Regions from separate parts of the Homo sapiens genome. Here regions 1 and 2 are each linked to region 3. Evidence: fine-mapped expression QTL. A gene starts in region 3. Each other region holds a variant in brackets. All regions are shown on one strand. Distances are from middle to middle. Region 1 overlaps LINC01237 (long intergenic non-protein coding RNA 1237). Region 2 overlaps LINC01237 (long intergenic non-protein coding RNA 1237). Region 3 holds the start of LINC01237 (long intergenic non-protein coding RNA 1237).

Region 1 (5,220 bases), 100 kb before region 3:
CACCCAACGCCATCGACTGGATCTCCGAGTACAATGAATGCCATCAACTGGATCTCTGAGTACACCCAACACCACCGACTGGATCTCCGAGTACACCCAACGCCACCGACTGGATCTCCGAGTACACCCAACGCCATCGACCGGATCTCCGAGTACACCCAACACAGCAACTGGATCTCCGAGTACACCCAACGCAGTGACTGGATCTCCGAGTACTCTGAAAGGACTTGATTGGCACTCTGCCTGTGCACATGTCATGATACGTGAAGAATATCTTGAGAACGCGGCTTTTAAAACCGCACCTGACCATGTGGAGATGCTGGTGTTGGGTGGAGGAGGAGCCCTGAGCCAGGGAGCGGCTCCTCAGTAGGCACGTGGGGAACACGCCCTCCCAAGCACCAGAACCACACAAGGCTGCACCGAGACCGGGGTGCGAGACCCTGTGCCAGGCGAGTGCCTGGTTTCCACAAACGCAGAGCAGAGCGTCCCCACGCCTCGGCAGTCTCCTTGCTGAGGGTGCTTCTTCCCTACTGGAGGAGGGAATCCCGCTTCCCCGATGGGACCGCCTTCGCCCAGGGAGCTCCTGGGAGGAGTCCGTCCCGAGTTATCCTGACCCTCTCCTCCTGCCATTGATGTGTGTGGTGATCGGAGCATGAGGCAATGCTGTAGCAGGGCAGGCTGCCTTCCGGGGTAAAGGAAGGTAACCTGGTCTCCCGGGCAGCTGGGCAGCTCGCGTTCCCTTTCCCACATCTTTTAAAGTGAATCAAAGAGAAACAAAGTAATCTTTCAGTCATTTTCTTCCAGACCGCAAGAACAAGAAATAATGTTTGAAAAATGGAAGGGAGCATGTGATCTCTATTCTCACTAAGCAGAACTTCATGGAAATACTGTTCATCGCATAACGATGGATCTTCACTTGCTTATCATTGGATTTTGCCTTGTGTCTCCACTTATTAACTACACAGGCTCAGCAAGTTTTCAGTCTTTATAAAATTGTGCTAACCGTGGGTTGCTGTCATCTTTGGTAACTTTGGAGAAAGGTCTTACTGCGTGTTCTCACCTTTCTGAAGAGCCCTCATGGGGTCCAGCCCATGAGGCGTCCCAACAGGAAAGGGGGTTTGCAGTGAGCCCTGGTTCCACCACAGCTGTTAGAGAGAGTTTGTGCCCCATGCCCAGCTCCCAAAATCCACTTCATCCCCGGAACAGTGCAAGGATAGGAGGTGTGGGGGTGGGTGGGGTCAGAGTCCACCCCCCCGCTCCTGTCCACCCGGATCCCGGTCAGTCATTCTGGGTTCTTTATGGCCTTCAGGGCCATTCCCACTGCTTGACAGCTGCCTTGGGTCTCAGATAAATGTGTCTTTCTTTCCTTTGCCTAACAGCTGCGGCTTTATCTAGCCAGCATATTTATGGAGCATCAATCATGAATGTAAAAGGTGGACAGCTTTGACTGTACATATGGTTGTAGAATATTGGAGAAGAGAGAAAGTCAGCCAATAGGAATTATTGACAGGACTGCACACATAATTTGCAGCTTTCACAAAATATCAATTAAGCCACATGATGGTTTCATCCCTGGGCAGAGACGAAAGCCCGGCAGGTGAGCAGGAGCGAGACAGAGCACCACGGGCCACGTGAGGCCAGGGCACCGCCTGTGAGCAGGAGAGAGACAGAGAACCACGGGGCACGTGAGGCCGGGGCACTGCCCATGAGCAGCAGAGAGACAGAGAACCACGGGGCACGTGAGGCCAGGGCATCGCCCGTGAGCAGGAGAGAGACAGAGAACCACGGGGCACGTGAGGCCGGGGCACTGCCCATGAGCAGGAGCGAGACAGAGCACCACGGGGCACGTGAGGCCAGGGCACCGCCTGTGAGCAGGAGAGAGACAGAGAACCACGGGGCACGTGAGGCCGGGGCACTGCCCATGAGCAGGAGAGAGACAGAGAACCACGGGGCACGTGAGGCCGGGGCACTTCCTGTGAGCAGGAGAGAGACAGAGAACCACGGGGCACGTGAGGCCGGGGCACTGCCCATGAGCAGGAGCGAGACAGAGAACCACGGGGCACGTGAGGCCGGGGCACTTCCTGTGAGCAGGAGAGAGACAGAGAACCACGGGGCACGTGAGGCCGGGGCACCGCCCGTGAGCAGGAGTGAGACAGAGAACCACGAGGCACGTGAGGCCAGGGCATCGCCCGTGAGCAGGAGTGAGACAGAGAACCACGAAGCATATGAGGCCGGGGCACCACCCGTGAAGTCACAGTCACACGTCAGCTGGTGGCACCCAAAGTGTGCAGAGGATGCCACACCCTCAGAGCCTCTTTCTGAGTCGTCCCCTCTGGGAAATCTTTAAAACAAACTGAGCCTGGCACAGCAGGAGAGCTACAATACGTTAAATTTTGGATACAGATCCAGCTACTACAAAAAAAGGAATTTTTTTCTTCAACTTCCTTAGGCAGCATCTAAAGAATCAAAATCAGATTCACCTGTTAGGCTGACAAAAAAAAAAATTGTAAGTGAAAATAGCCAGACACAAAACGTGCATGTGTGTGCACGTGTGCACGTGTGTGTGTGTGTGTCTATACACATACACACGTGTAGACTTCTGATGGAAACTAAGGCTGTGCAGGCAGAAGTGACTGGATAAAGTTTTATTGGAAGCTGAACATGGGGATCCACTTGGGAAGACGCCCACAGAACTGAGCATGTTCTGGGGTCGGCTACTAGGTGGAAGACTTTCTGGAAAAGTTTAGGAGAAGGGAGGGGACTCCTCACAACAGAGGCATCCTTCTCATGGGGGGACAGGTTGGAGGGCACAGCCAGTGCACACAGATCATACCGTGAGGGCTAAAACGTCTCCATGCAAGGCAATCAGAAAGCTTCATGATTCCGAAACAAACCAGCAAAGCTTCGTGATTCAGAAGCAAGTCAGCAGAATGTCATGACACAGAATCAGATCAACATTTCACGGTTCAGAAACAAATCGGCATCCTTTCAGTGTCAGTGGGTGCCGATCAGTGCGTCAACAGCCGGAGAAGCTGATGGTGAGATTCTCCACTCAGGGGCAGGGTGTGCCCACGAGTC[A/G]CAGACGTCTCCAAAGCCAGTTAATTTGGAAGCAGGTTTATGTTTAAACTGCCAAATGTGACCTAAAGGTTACCAAGACCCCCTCTCTCCTCTCTGTCTCTCTCTCTCTCACACACACACACACACACACGCCATCTTACATACTCTATGATTCCACTTATAAGATTTTGTCACCCCAGGCTTGGGCCTGAGTCCCTCGACCCTTTCTGCGATCTCCCCGATGCCTCGCACTTGGCCATCGGGATTCACTGACTTTACCTAAAGAGAAGCCGCCCCTGAGCAGCCCCCTGACCCGGCATTTTCCAGCTGGCTCGGTGCATCTCAGCGTGAGACCCACACGTGGGGCGCCTGTGAGGACTGCAGAGGGGGACACAGGTCCCATCCACCCCAAGGCTGCCCCAAAGCATCTCATGTCATTGTTATGTTTTATGTATGGGGCACTCTGGTAGAAATTCTGTACTGGAAAACTATCTCCCCACTAAAACCAAACAAACAGGCAGCTTTCGGGGGCCTTCGTAACGCCTCCTACCTCACCTCCTAATGCCTCTCCTCACCAGGTTTCTGGTCTCCCGGAGCAACCTGCAAACCATCAGTCCTCAGCCTCCTCCTCACTGATGCCCCAGGCCCACAGGCTCTGGGGTTAGGACAGTGCCTGCTGCCTAGCGCTGGTCTGGGAGATGCCCTGGCCAGGGGGCAGGAGCCGCACGGGAGGGCTGAGGGCCGGGAAGTGCCGTGGGGCGGGGAGCATGGATGTCAGCAGGATGATTTTTGACACTTTATTTACACAGATGTCTCGATTGTACCATTAGATGAGTTTGTCAAGTTCCCCTGTAAACAACACCCCAAATAAGATATGAAATATTTCCAGCTCCTACAGTTTCCCCAAGCCCACCCACGCCAGGGCCCTCCCGGCTCCTCCCACAGCCACAGCGCTGAGTACCTGTGCAAGAAAGTCCTGCTTCTCCCGGATCAGATGGCACGGGATAGCCTGGCACACAGGCAGCCTGCGGGGCTGGCACGGACGCTTCTGTCCGGTGTTTTTGCTCGAAGTATCTTTTGAGATTCATCCACTAGATTGTGGACGCCAGAAGTTCATGCATTTTCATTGCCCAGTGGCCTTCCATGTGTGGTTAGACACACTTTCTTTAACTGTTTCCTGTTGAGGAATGCTGGACAATTCCAGGTGTGGCCTGTTACTGTGAGTGACCCCGCCCAGGACTGTGGACAATTCCAGGTGTGGGCTGTTACTGTGAGCGACCCCGCCCAGGACTGTGGACAATTCCAGGTGTGGGCTGTTACTATGAGTGACCCCGCCCAGGACTGTGGACAATTCCAGGTGTGGGCTGTTACAGTTAAAGCCCCTTTGAGAGACCCTGTCCAGGACTATTTGTGGAAGACATTTACATTTTGCTGGGCACAGGGCAGGTGTACATATAGTTGTGGGGGACCTGCCATGCTATGGTCAAAGTGCCTGTGCCTGTGCACCTCCTCCCCGCCGGCGACGTGAATATTCCAGATGTTCCAGACCCTCCCGGCACAGGGTGGGGCCAGGATCTTCACATCCAGTTATTTCAACGTGCGTCACACAGCATCCCATTATGATGAATGTGCATTTCCTGATGGCCGAGGATACTGAGTGCTTTCAATTTGCTTATTGGTCATTCTTGTATCACCTTTTGTCTAATGTCTGTCTTGTCTGTTTTTTTAAAAAGGTATATTTATTGATTTGTAAAGGAAGGACCTTTATATTTTGATATATGTCTTTCAGATTTTATATGTATGCAAATATTTTATTACAATTTGTTTCTTTTTGTTTTTTAATGGTGTTTTTATTTAAAGCAGCAGAATTGGTAGCTAACAGAATAGTCCCTATGAGTAACATGAAGGGCAAACGTCACATCACCATGTTAACAGACTCGGGAAGTGTATCTGAAGAAGTCCAACCTCCATTCATGAATAACAATTTTCAGCAGACTTCTCTGGGGGCCTTCCTCCACCTGTGGGAGTCGTACATCCAGAAGCCGAGTGAGCTGGAAGGACCCCAGTGGGGATGGGCTATGGTTGGAGACCCTGGTATGAACCCCAGTTTAGCTTGACATAGACACAGATGGTTCCATGCAGAATATTTATAGACATGTATGT
Region 2 (5,220 bases), 27 kb before region 3:
TGTCTGATTTTTGCATGGATGAAACCCAGATTATTTAGAATGCTGTCAATACTCAGACTATTTACAAAGACATTTTTCAGGGCATCTGTCTCAGGATATTAATTGGATTTTCACAAAAATAGAGATGCATTCTGTTATCAAATACATTTGACAAATATAGAGTTAGAGAGAAATAGGTTCTCACCTGGTCCCAGAACCCATTTTTTCTGGGACCCCTGAGAGAACTGATACGACACTGTATGTGCTATTTTCTAGATCGACAATCATAATTAAAGCAATAAAGCCTGGCATTCCTGCAGGCAAGGCCCTGCTTCTGTGCTGAACACACAACCCCTGAGCTCCCTCGATCCCCGCTTCACAGAGGGAGAACCAGGGGCCAGGCCAACCCTAACCAGGCCACCAGGTTCCAGGACACAATTCCTTGCAAAAGTGCTTTGGGTCAAAATTGGCTCAAAATTGGCGGCCATATGCTGAGTTTCAGGCCACGTGTTCTGACAAGTCTCTGCTGGGCACTCAGCTCCGTCCACCCCCGTCCTCACAGTGACCCGGAGAGGGCAAGGGCAACGTCCTCTTATCAAAAGAAAGGTCCTGGTGTTAGGAAGGCAGGAGCCCAGGAGAGCCAGAATCACACCATTTTAAAATCCACTCGCCGGACACAGTCATGACCCCCGGTCCTAAGATGTTCACAGCTAAAGAGGCAGCTTGGTGACGCCTGCAAAAACACACTCCTCCAACAACAGAGTCCAGACGTCCAGAACCCCAGCAATGTGTGCTGTTAAGATCATTCCAGTTATGCTTTGATGGACTCACACACGAAAATGTCAAGGACAGTTTTCCTTACATAGAATAAGAAAATATCATGCTCTCTGCTCACCTACATGTAGGCACAGCTTGGCTTGGTCTTTCCACAGACGAGACCCCTATATAAGAAAAACCTAAAGCTGGGGCGTTGCTTCTCTTGCTTTCTGAGGGTGCCCTATCTGCAATGAAGTAGTTTTCAATAAACTTCCTTCTCTCACTGCACTCTGCAACTCGCCTGGAATTTCTTCCCACGAGAGATCCAAAGCCCTCTCTTGGGGTCTTGATTGAGACCCTTTTTCCAGTAACACTGAGGCTCCATTTCCAGTCATGGCAAAGCAGCTCATGTCAGTCCAACACACCACCTACATCCCCTGGACAGATACAGGCACCAACCACCAGAAGGTACCGGGCACAGCCGGAAGCAGAAAGAGACTGAACAGGCGTCCGTACTCGGAGGAAAGCCGTGGCGCCAGGCAGATTTCCTTTTGTAAGGCATTCCACTCGAGAGCAGCTGGCCCACGCAGGGGAGCAAAGCCTCGGGTAGGAAACCACCGTCCCTCCGGCATGAGGACCCAGAGAGCAACGGGGTGACTGTGGCAGCCAGGGAGGAAAGAGGAGTTCCTGGAAAGGACAGAGCCAGAGGGGACCCCAAAATCTGCATTTCACTCTGCCTAGATCTCCTGGAGACCTGGCCCACACGTGTGCAGGACTTTGTGCCGCCTGAAAAGAACCGATGAGCGGCACCAATGGTGCCACCGTAGGGGACAGAGCCTAGCGTCTGCCCGACTAAGCAAAACAGAAATCTGTCTGACAGCCTGGGGACCGGAAGTCTGAGGTCAGGCATCGGCAGGGTCAGTTCCTGCGGAGATGTGAAAGGGAATCTGCTCCCGGCCATGCCCCAGCAACCCTCTGTGTTGCTTTTGATGGGGTTCGGGACACGCTACCCCAAAGTATGGCACCTTGGCACTGTGAAAACAGCAGAAGCAGGAAGGTCTCTCTCACCTCCCCTCAGCCTTCTCCCCTACAGCAGGTCCCCAAGACCCTGATGTGAGACGCCCTCCCGAAACCCGGGGAAAAGACACGCCCTTCTCTCTGAAGATACAGGACACAGAGAACTGGTGTTGACAGCTGACGTGATGACAGTTCTCGTCTTCTCAGTTCAAAAGAATTTAAACAAGAGACACACTGCAAAAGAAGTGCAGCACAGAGTAACTTATTGCAAAAGAAGAAAAGTATTTTGCAGGGGCTCACGCCTGTAATCCTAGCATTTTAGGAGGCCGAGGTGGGCGGATTACTTGAGGTCAGGAGTTTGAGACCAGCCTGGCCAATATGGTGAAACCCCATCTCTAATAAAAATAGAAAAATTAGCCAAGCATGGTAGCAAGCGCCTGTAATCCCAGCTACTTGGGAGGCTGAGGCGGGAGAATCACTCAAATCCGGGAGGCAGAGGTTGCAGGGAGCCAAGATCATACCACTGCACTCCAGCCTGGGCAACAAGAGCAAAACTCTGTCTTTAAAAAAAAAAAAAAGAGTATTTTGAAAGTGAGGTGCAGAATAGACAGGCCACCCTAAGGGAGAAAGGACTCAGGGTGGGTCATGAGGGTGAGACAGCAGAGACCGGCCATAGGGAGGCTGCCTTTATGGGAGTCTCACCCGATGATCCATAAGAAGATGGGAGAGGTAGCCGGGCATGGGGGCTCATGCCTGTAATCTCAGCACTTTGGGAGGCCAAGGCGAGTGGATCATCTGAGGTCGGGAGTTCAAGACCAGCCTGACCAACATGGAGAAACCTCGTCTCTACTAAAAAAAAATACAAAATTAGCTGGGCATGGTGGCGCATGCCTATAATCCCAGCTACTCAGGAGGCTGAGGCAGGAGAATCGCTTGAACCTGGGAGGCAGAGGCTGTGGTGAGCTGAGATCTCACCACTGCACTCCAGACTGGGGATAGATCTAGACCCCACCTTAAAAAAAAAAGAAAGTGGGAGAGGTGTTATCAGGAAGCACAGTCTGGTGGTCGTCGGCACACATGCTTGTTTGTAGGTGGTGTGTCTCAT[T/G]AGCATCTTACATCTCCACCCAGGGGTATCTTTTTCACTGTTATAATGAACAAAGGGTTGGTTCGAGGACAGGTAAAAATTAAAGTGTGCGTGCTCTTTAGAAGAGAGTCCCCGCTGGAGATAGCTTTGCTTGCGTGAGCTCAATTACAAAGCAAACACTGAGGTTTAGGTGGTGGCTGTGTATAGTCAACACAGTCATTTCCCTGCTCACCTATCCCCTCTCCCCCGGGCACACAGGCCGTGCTGAGGTGCCCAGTTCACCCATCACATCACAGCCTCCCGTCCTCATCCACGTTTCCCCACGGCCATCCCCTCTTCATCAAGCCAAAGCACAAACACACAGGTCCACCTGGCTCTGGGTCTTCATTTCCTTACGAAGGCTCCAAGTCACATAAAACTAAAATACATTTGTTCGCTTTTCTCTGGTGAATCCGTCTTGTTTCAGGAGCCTCAACCCTGAACCTTTTCTCTCTGCACTTGGAGTGTAGACGCGTCCCTTCTTCTCTCCCTCCGGCTTCACCGTACCTTCCCTGTGTGTCTGTGCACACATTTCCCCTTCTTAAAAGCATGCTGGTCATTGGATTTAGGGCCCACCCTAATCCATCATGAGGTCATCCTAATGCATAACATCTGCAATAACCCATTTCCAAAAATGTCTGTGTTCACAGGTTAGGGCTTGAACATATTTCCTAAGGACACTATTCAGCCCTCCACAAACACCAGCAGCAGACTAAGCCACGTTCAGGTCGTGTTGAGGTGGGAAATTAAAGAAAAATAAAATTAAAAAGAAAGAGAAATAAGCTTTCCCGTATTAGGCTAACTTGTCCTAGAGGCAGCAACAAGCACAGCCCAAACCCAGGAAAAGTCTTAATAATAATATTATCTAATGTGCTCTGGAGACTCTCCCAGCACTCCCTCAATATAGGGAGAAGAAAAACAAATTTTCCTTTGTTTTATGGAATGAGTTTATAAATTCCTGTTCTCTGTAACTATTGACTTCAAGCATTGTTTTATCTAAGCAGTAAAGTGAAGGTCATGAGCCTCTGAGCAGGCCTGAGTTACGGCCACCTGGGCAACATAGTGAAGGTTATGGGATAAGCCCGTGCCCAGGTTAACCTAGATAACGGACATGTGGGTTGCTTGGCAACAGTCATGTGCAATCCTGAGTTTGTCCTGCCTCTGTATCCCTGCTTTCACGCCACTGTAAGCTTGCTTCAAGCTAGCCCACCCCCTTTTGTGAAGTGTGTGTAAAAGTCAGGCGCTGTCTTTGTTCTGGGCCCAGTCTTTGGACATTGAGTCTGCTGGGTCTGAGTGCACTCAATGATAAAGATATCCTCCTGTGTACACTCCAAGGTCTCTCTCCGGTCCTCCTGATCCTGCAACAGTGCTAGGTCTCCCTAAAGGCCATCGGGCCCCTGGGTGGACCTTGGAGTCTTGCTCATTATCTCAGCCATGCTGTGCACATGACTGTAGTCCCAGCCTGGCCCACCCTGGGATGACAGGAGCTTCCCCCGGCGGTCCGTTTCCTGCACTGGCCCCCCCACAGGGATGTCTCCCAGGGCTGCCTGGACACGTCTTCACATTGGCTGAGGGGTCCCTCAAGGGCAACCAGACATGGCTTCTAGTCTAGTACCTGTTCTTCCCTCACAACATGAGTGAAGGATTTTAAACCTTCAAAGCCATATTTGCACTTACCTAACCCCTTAATCCTTTTCCTTCCGTCCCCCGTCCTGGAAGCCCCACTCAGTGTGTCAGGGGATTTCACCACCGAGGCACCTGTGGGCTGGGACCTGGGAGCTCTGCGTCCCCCTCCCCACACTCAGTTTCACTATGGCCAGATGCTGCCTCCGATGAAAGAAAGGGAGCCCATGGCAGAGCGTCGAGGGCGCCAGGGTGGCCACACAGGCCAGGAGACCAACCTCTAACCCTGATCTGACACAGGTCTAAGGGGAAGGTCATGAAGAAGAAACACAGCTCCTGAGAGACGTTTGGGGAGAACGAACCAGGACTAAACTAGAACTTACTCCGTGCAACCAGGGCCTCTCGGGAAACACTCAGGAAACCCTGGGCTGGCAGAACTAGTGGCGTCTTTGGGGACGGATCCCCGCAGGTTGGGAGTCCACGGTGCAGGGCCTGCATGGGGGACCAGACACGGCCACACCAGACGGGGCCCCTCTCAACGTTCAGCTGCTCAAGAAGGAGAAAAAGAGAAGGATTCTAAATGACGCACTGCCCTTCACACTTCAGGGTGAGGTTCCCGGCCCACTTTGTATTATGATTAAACACGCAGGTGTGCGCACACCCACAGCCCTGCACACACACCTGTGCACACTCCCAGCACCCACTCCCCCTTTTCTCCTGGG
Region 3 (5,220 bases):
GTGCCAATTCTGTGCATAAGAAAATAGCCCTGGAACACTCACATTAGACCAGGTAGCACCCCTGAAGATAAAGAGGGACATTCCATGATGACACCATGGTCAGCCACTGTCAGGATCACAGAAAAATCCTAAATGCCTAAAAAGATAATAACAGTTTCAAAAAACACGAAGTAAAAACGGACGGAACTGAAAGAATAGAGAAATTCACTGTCCTAGTTGGAGATGTAACAGCTCTCTCGGGACTGCAAGCACAGCGGGTGGGACAGGAAGGATTCGCCGGTTTAAAGAGCACTGTCAACCAGCTGCACCTCATTAACTCTTGGCGAGCATCCCACCCCACAGCTGCAGAACACAAGTAATTTTTGAGTGTATACGGAGCATTTACAAAGATAGGGCTTATGTTAAACAGTAAGAATAAGTCTCTGTAATTTTAAAAAGTGAGATCCTGCAGTTTGTTCCTTGATCAAAATGGAATTAAATCAGTAATAGCAAGATTCCTTTTAGACTCTCCACATATTTGGAAAGTGGGCAATACTCTTCTAAATATGCTTCTCAGAATAGAGGGTTTAAAAAATAAATACACACATAAAGAGATTCTTCTAAATAAAGCATGGGTCAAAGAAGAAATCCAAAGAAAATTAGCACTTATTTCAAATATCCATCAAAATATTACACAAAAATTGTAGCATAGTCTTAGAGGAAGATTTGTGACTTTAAATACTGACGACATTTCAACAAAGAAGGTACACAGTGATCAATACACTCATGAAAGGGTGTTCAACTCACCCGTCACAAGGAAATGCAAACTAACGCCTCACTGAGATCTGCCAAACTTCTGGTGCCGACTGTGACCTGGCCGCGCCTGCGGGGGGCAGAGGAGAGAAGGAGACTGGGGGTGAGGTCCACGTGTCCCAGGCAGGGGGACAGAGGCCAGAAGAAAGTGGCTGCGGGTGAGATCCACATGTCCCAGCCAGGGACGGAGAGGAGGGAGAACCGGACAGCAGCATCTGCTTCCAGCCACGTCACGTGTTTGGAGAGGCGGTGTCACCTCAGTGTGAGGAATGGCCACTCAGGACACGTCTGGACTTCCTCCCAGCCACCTCTCACCAGGGATCAGAATCCCGGCCCCGGGGACCCTCGACCCATAAACATCTTGGGCCTACAGCACCACCAAGCACGCCACAGCCTTGGCCTGGGGCTGCTTCAGAGACACCGCACGGAGGGCTTCTCACTTCCCCAGCCAGGAGCCACCCACGCTGCACCCGGGGAGGCCCCAGTTGCATCTGTCCCACCTTTCAGACCGAGCCAGCCAGAGGCGCCCAGAAAGACTATGCCAGGCCTCAGCTGTGTTGAAACCCAGGTTGGGGACAGTGGCAGGACCTGTGCCAGCGTCTGCCCTTGCTCCTGGCTGGATTCAGTTACTTGGCTGGGCCCCAGTGAAGGCGCAGAGGGCACCACCACCTGCACAGGAAGGGAAGGAAGCCCACAGCAGAGCCAGCACACGTGTGGCCACGCCCCGGCCCAGCCCCCCCTCACACGTGGCCACACCCCCTGCCCAGCCCCCTTACATGTGGCCACACCTCCGATCAGCCCCCTTCCACACGTGGTCACGCCCCCTGTTCAGCCTCCTCGCACATGACCACGCCCCCGTCCAGCCCCCGCACACAGGGCCACTCCTCTAGCCCAGCCCCTCACACGCGTGACCACGCCCCTTAGTCTCCTCGCTCGTGGCCACGCCCCCTGCACGGCCCCCTCGCGCGTGGCCACACCCCTGTCCAGCCACACACACACACACACACACACACACACACACACACACACACACACGCTGGGCCACGCCCCTACCCAGCCCCCTCACACGTATGGGCACGCCCCTGCTCAGCGCCCTCACACGCATGGCCACCCCCCGTCCAGCCCCTTAACGCGTGCTGCCCCGTGCCCACCTACAGCGGCCTCCTCCGCACCAGGGCTGACCCAGTGTGGGGTCCAGGTGGGCTCTGGTAGGCCCCCGGGCAGAGCTGTGCCCCGCGTCACTGAGGATGCACAGAGAAAAAGGAAGGGGCGGAGGAAGCGGAAACCCGAGCAGCGCTGCCTGGGCGTGGCAAGCCCGCTAGTTTTCCCGCCCGCTCATCTGCTTTCCCTCCCTCCATAATAAGTGTGGCACCTGGAGTGTGTGACTTTCATGATTTTCTTTTAGGAGAAACATAACGCAGTCCTCTGTCCCGCCCCTCCTGCAGGGAATGGTCATGGGGGCGTAGTTAACCCCATGCGTGCGGAGGTACACCTTGGAGCCCAGCGCCGACACAGGTCAGGAGAGTGTTAGCCACTGCTGAATGACTCCTGTTGTGTGCAAAATTGTTTTGACTTTTAAAGACTACACACAACCCATTCTGCCATTATTTAGGGTGAATTATACTGCTGGGTCACAAGAAGAAGACGTGGCTCCTCTTGATGCTGAGGGAGGCCTGGAAGTCATTGCTGGGAGCTTGGGAAGAGGGCTCCCCGAGGCAGAGCCTCCCAGGGGACAGAGGCGGCCCAGCGATGACCTGGGAGGTGAGCACAGGTGTGCGGGGCCCCTCGGGGCCCACCATAAGGCCCCACAGCAGGCCCTAACCTCCCCCATGTGTCCTAAGGCAGTTCCATTTGCATTGGCAATGGTCATTTCACTACTTCTGACCTGGAAGCGAGGTATATGTTTGGAGGTGACACGAGGCTCCCAAAGGGGTGCTATAGGGCGCCTTTTCTTATTTTATAAAACTTACATCGAAATGAGCCGCACCCTGAGGGGCAGCCCACCTGCTCACCCCTGGAGGGACTCTCCCAGGGCTGAGGGTCTTCCCCAGATGCTTCACCCGGGCTCCTCCAAGTGTGGGGTGGCCTTCAGTCTGCTGCGAAGAGGATGTGGGGTGTCTGGCAGCCACTCTGCTCTGGATTTGCGGGAACCTCTGCTGCCTCCCTGGTGCCCCTTGATTGGCGCTGGGTCTAGGAACCCCCTCTGGGTTGGAACTGGACTTGAAAAGGTCATTTTCTGCCTGCACCCACCAAGGCCACCTGGGGCTGTGGAGCCAGGAAACCCCTGTCACTCTCCTCAGATGCTGGCCCGAGGGCACCCTCAGTCTCCCTGAGTCCAAATCACCTTTTCTTCCCAAATGACCCAGCAGCCTAGGCCAGCCCCAGCTGGAAAGACTGCTCCCCTCTCTCCTCCGCTCTGCTCCCCTGCCCTCTCTTCCCCTCCCCTCCCTTCCTTTCTTCTGCTGGCGGAAGTCCTGTGCCAATCCCACATCCACATCCGTCACTGCACTCCTGGATCACACCTGGACAGACACAGAACTAGTCCTGGGAGTGATCCCAGGGCCAGGACCCTAGTAATGAGTTATCTAAATGTCTCTGGGTGTCTGGAATTGGTTCTCTGCTCCAACTAGCTTTAAAGGCATTCACGCTCTGTTCCCAGGGGTACCAGGGTGCTAGCTGCCCACAGGAGTAGCATACAGGCACTCAGATTGCCACCTGCAGACATCTGTAATCAAATGGCCATAGGATGCCTGGCCCTGGGCATCAAGGGAAAAATTTAGGGGTGTAGCTGGGTGGGCGGATGCTTCTAAGTGTGCTGGAGAACTTGGGGAAAAAGAGAAAGGCCTCCAATTTAGCCCCCAAAGTCCCAGGCAAACAGGGACACTTGCCATAACAGGTGGAGACATTCCCCAAAGGCTGGGAGGCAGAGTGGAGGCATCGCCAGGACCCCAGCCCTCTGCTGCCTCTCCTGTACAGAGGTACAAAGTCCCAGGCCCCAGAAGGAAAGGGAAGGAGATCCCCGAACCTCTGCTCCAGCTAGGACCTCACTGAGGCCCAGGTGGTGTGACCCTCCACCTACCAGCCAGCCCGGGGCCCGGATCACAGCGTGGCCACTCCTCCTGGGGACTTCCCTGGCCTCCCGCTCCCCTCGCCAAAGCTGCGGGTGAAGCAGCTCTAGCCCACCCTAGCTAGCCATTGTCCAAGGCCAAGGCCCGCCTGTCCACCTGAATACCCAGGGTCCAGGGTAACCAACCTGATCCTAACCCAACCCTGCAACAGGTAGCTACATAAATCAGCACAGACCCTACCCCACCCCCAGACACTTAGAGAGGCATTCGCTTTATCCACCACAGGGTGATGGGAGCTGCTGTCAGAGTTCTCGCCAGACCCTCCCAGGGAACCCCAGACTTGGTTTCAGCAGGAACCACATGTGACCCTGGATGAGCTGACCCCCATCACTAGGAAATGTACCTTAAGTCAGAAAAGTATTCACACTTTGAGTCCCCTCAACTTTGGCTGAACTAATAGCAATTACATTAAAAATGTGTCTGCCCTTCATCTTCTTTGACTTTGATATTAAATATCTCTACTAATAACTCAGTTGCCTAAAGTCGTTACTGCTACCTCATATTTAATTAGGCCCAACCTGGCCACTCCAACCATATAGGAGACTCAGGCAAGAGCTCAGATGTAGGCTCAGGTTAAAGTTCCAGTGTGGATTCAGGTGTGGGCCCAGGTGCAGCCTCAGGTGTAGTCTCGGGTGAGGGCTTAGGTGCAGCCTCAGGTGTAAGCTCAGGTTAAAGTTCCAGTGTGGGCCCAGGTGCAACCTCAGATGAGAGCTCAGGTGTGGGCTCAGGTGCAGCCTCAGACGAGAGCTCAGGTGTGGGATCAGGTGCAGCCTCAGACGAGAGCTCAGGTGTGGGCTCAGGTGCAGCCTCAGACGAGAGCTCAGGGGAGGGCTCAGGTGCAACCTCAGATGAGGGCTCAGGTGTGGGCTCAGGTGCAGCCTCAGATGAGAGCTCAGGTGTGGGCTCAGGTGCAGCCTCAGATGAGGGCTCAGGTGTGGGCTCAGGGTGAGAGTTCAGCTTGCTGCTTGGCATGTGAACCCCAGGCCTACCCTTGGCTTTTGAGCTAGTGTCTGTGCCTGGGCTTTCCCGCGACCATGGCGGTGCATTCAGCACTCACAGTACCGCATTTGCCTTCACAGCGGTGAGTGCACGCATTGCCTTAGCTCCCATTTTTACTAGTGAATGTAACAATTAATTAAATAAATACAATTACTAATGAAACCAATGGTAACAATGCTGATGATGGGTAGTTTTAACAACTCATCTGATTAAGCCGAGAAGCAGTTCAACAGCAATGAGGGCAAGGGAGCGGCCCCAGAGATCCACGCCCTCCCAGGCCTCCCTCGACAACAAGGTCTGC

The links. PIP is the estimated chance that this variant, and not a neighbour inherited with it, causes the effect.
Region 1: its variant is the best candidate, but not a certain one, in a credible set for the expression of LINC01237 in monocytes after R848 (Quach 2016, PIP 0.83).
Region 2: its variant is the best candidate, but not a certain one, in a credible set for the expression of LINC01237 in whole blood (TOPMed, PIP 0.90).

What each region holds. Positions count from the first base shown.
Region 1 is chr2:241,982,266-241,987,485 of GRCh38, reverse strand. All of the region lies in intron 3 of LINC01237 (long intergenic non-protein coding RNA 1237), which reads right to left. Among named protein-coding and RNA genes, the nearest start is that of LINC01238, 14 kb to the right of the region's middle. RefSeq lists an enhancer at 1,944-2,480. The variant A/G (reference allele first, on the strand shown) is at 3,079.
Region 2 is chr2:241,905,279-241,910,498 of GRCh38, reverse strand. The region is part of intron 2 of LINC01237 (long intergenic non-protein coding RNA 1237); the gene reads right to left. Among named protein-coding and RNA genes, the nearest start is that of FAM240C, 7.4 kb to the right of the region's middle. The variant T/G (reference allele first, on the strand shown) is at 2,858.
Region 3 is chr2:241,878,202-241,883,421 of GRCh38, reverse strand. It overlaps LINC01237 (long intergenic non-protein coding RNA 1237), which reads right to left and starts at 2,059. Exons shown (of 4, transcript NR_110220.1): 1 at 1,944-2,059; 2 at 787-862. It overlaps LOC105373978 (a long non-coding RNA gene), which reads left to right and starts at 2,095. Exons shown (of 3, transcript XR_924077.3): 1 at 2,095-2,307; 2 at 2,405-2,553; 3 at 4,146-4,388. RefSeq lists an enhancer at 2,039-2,629.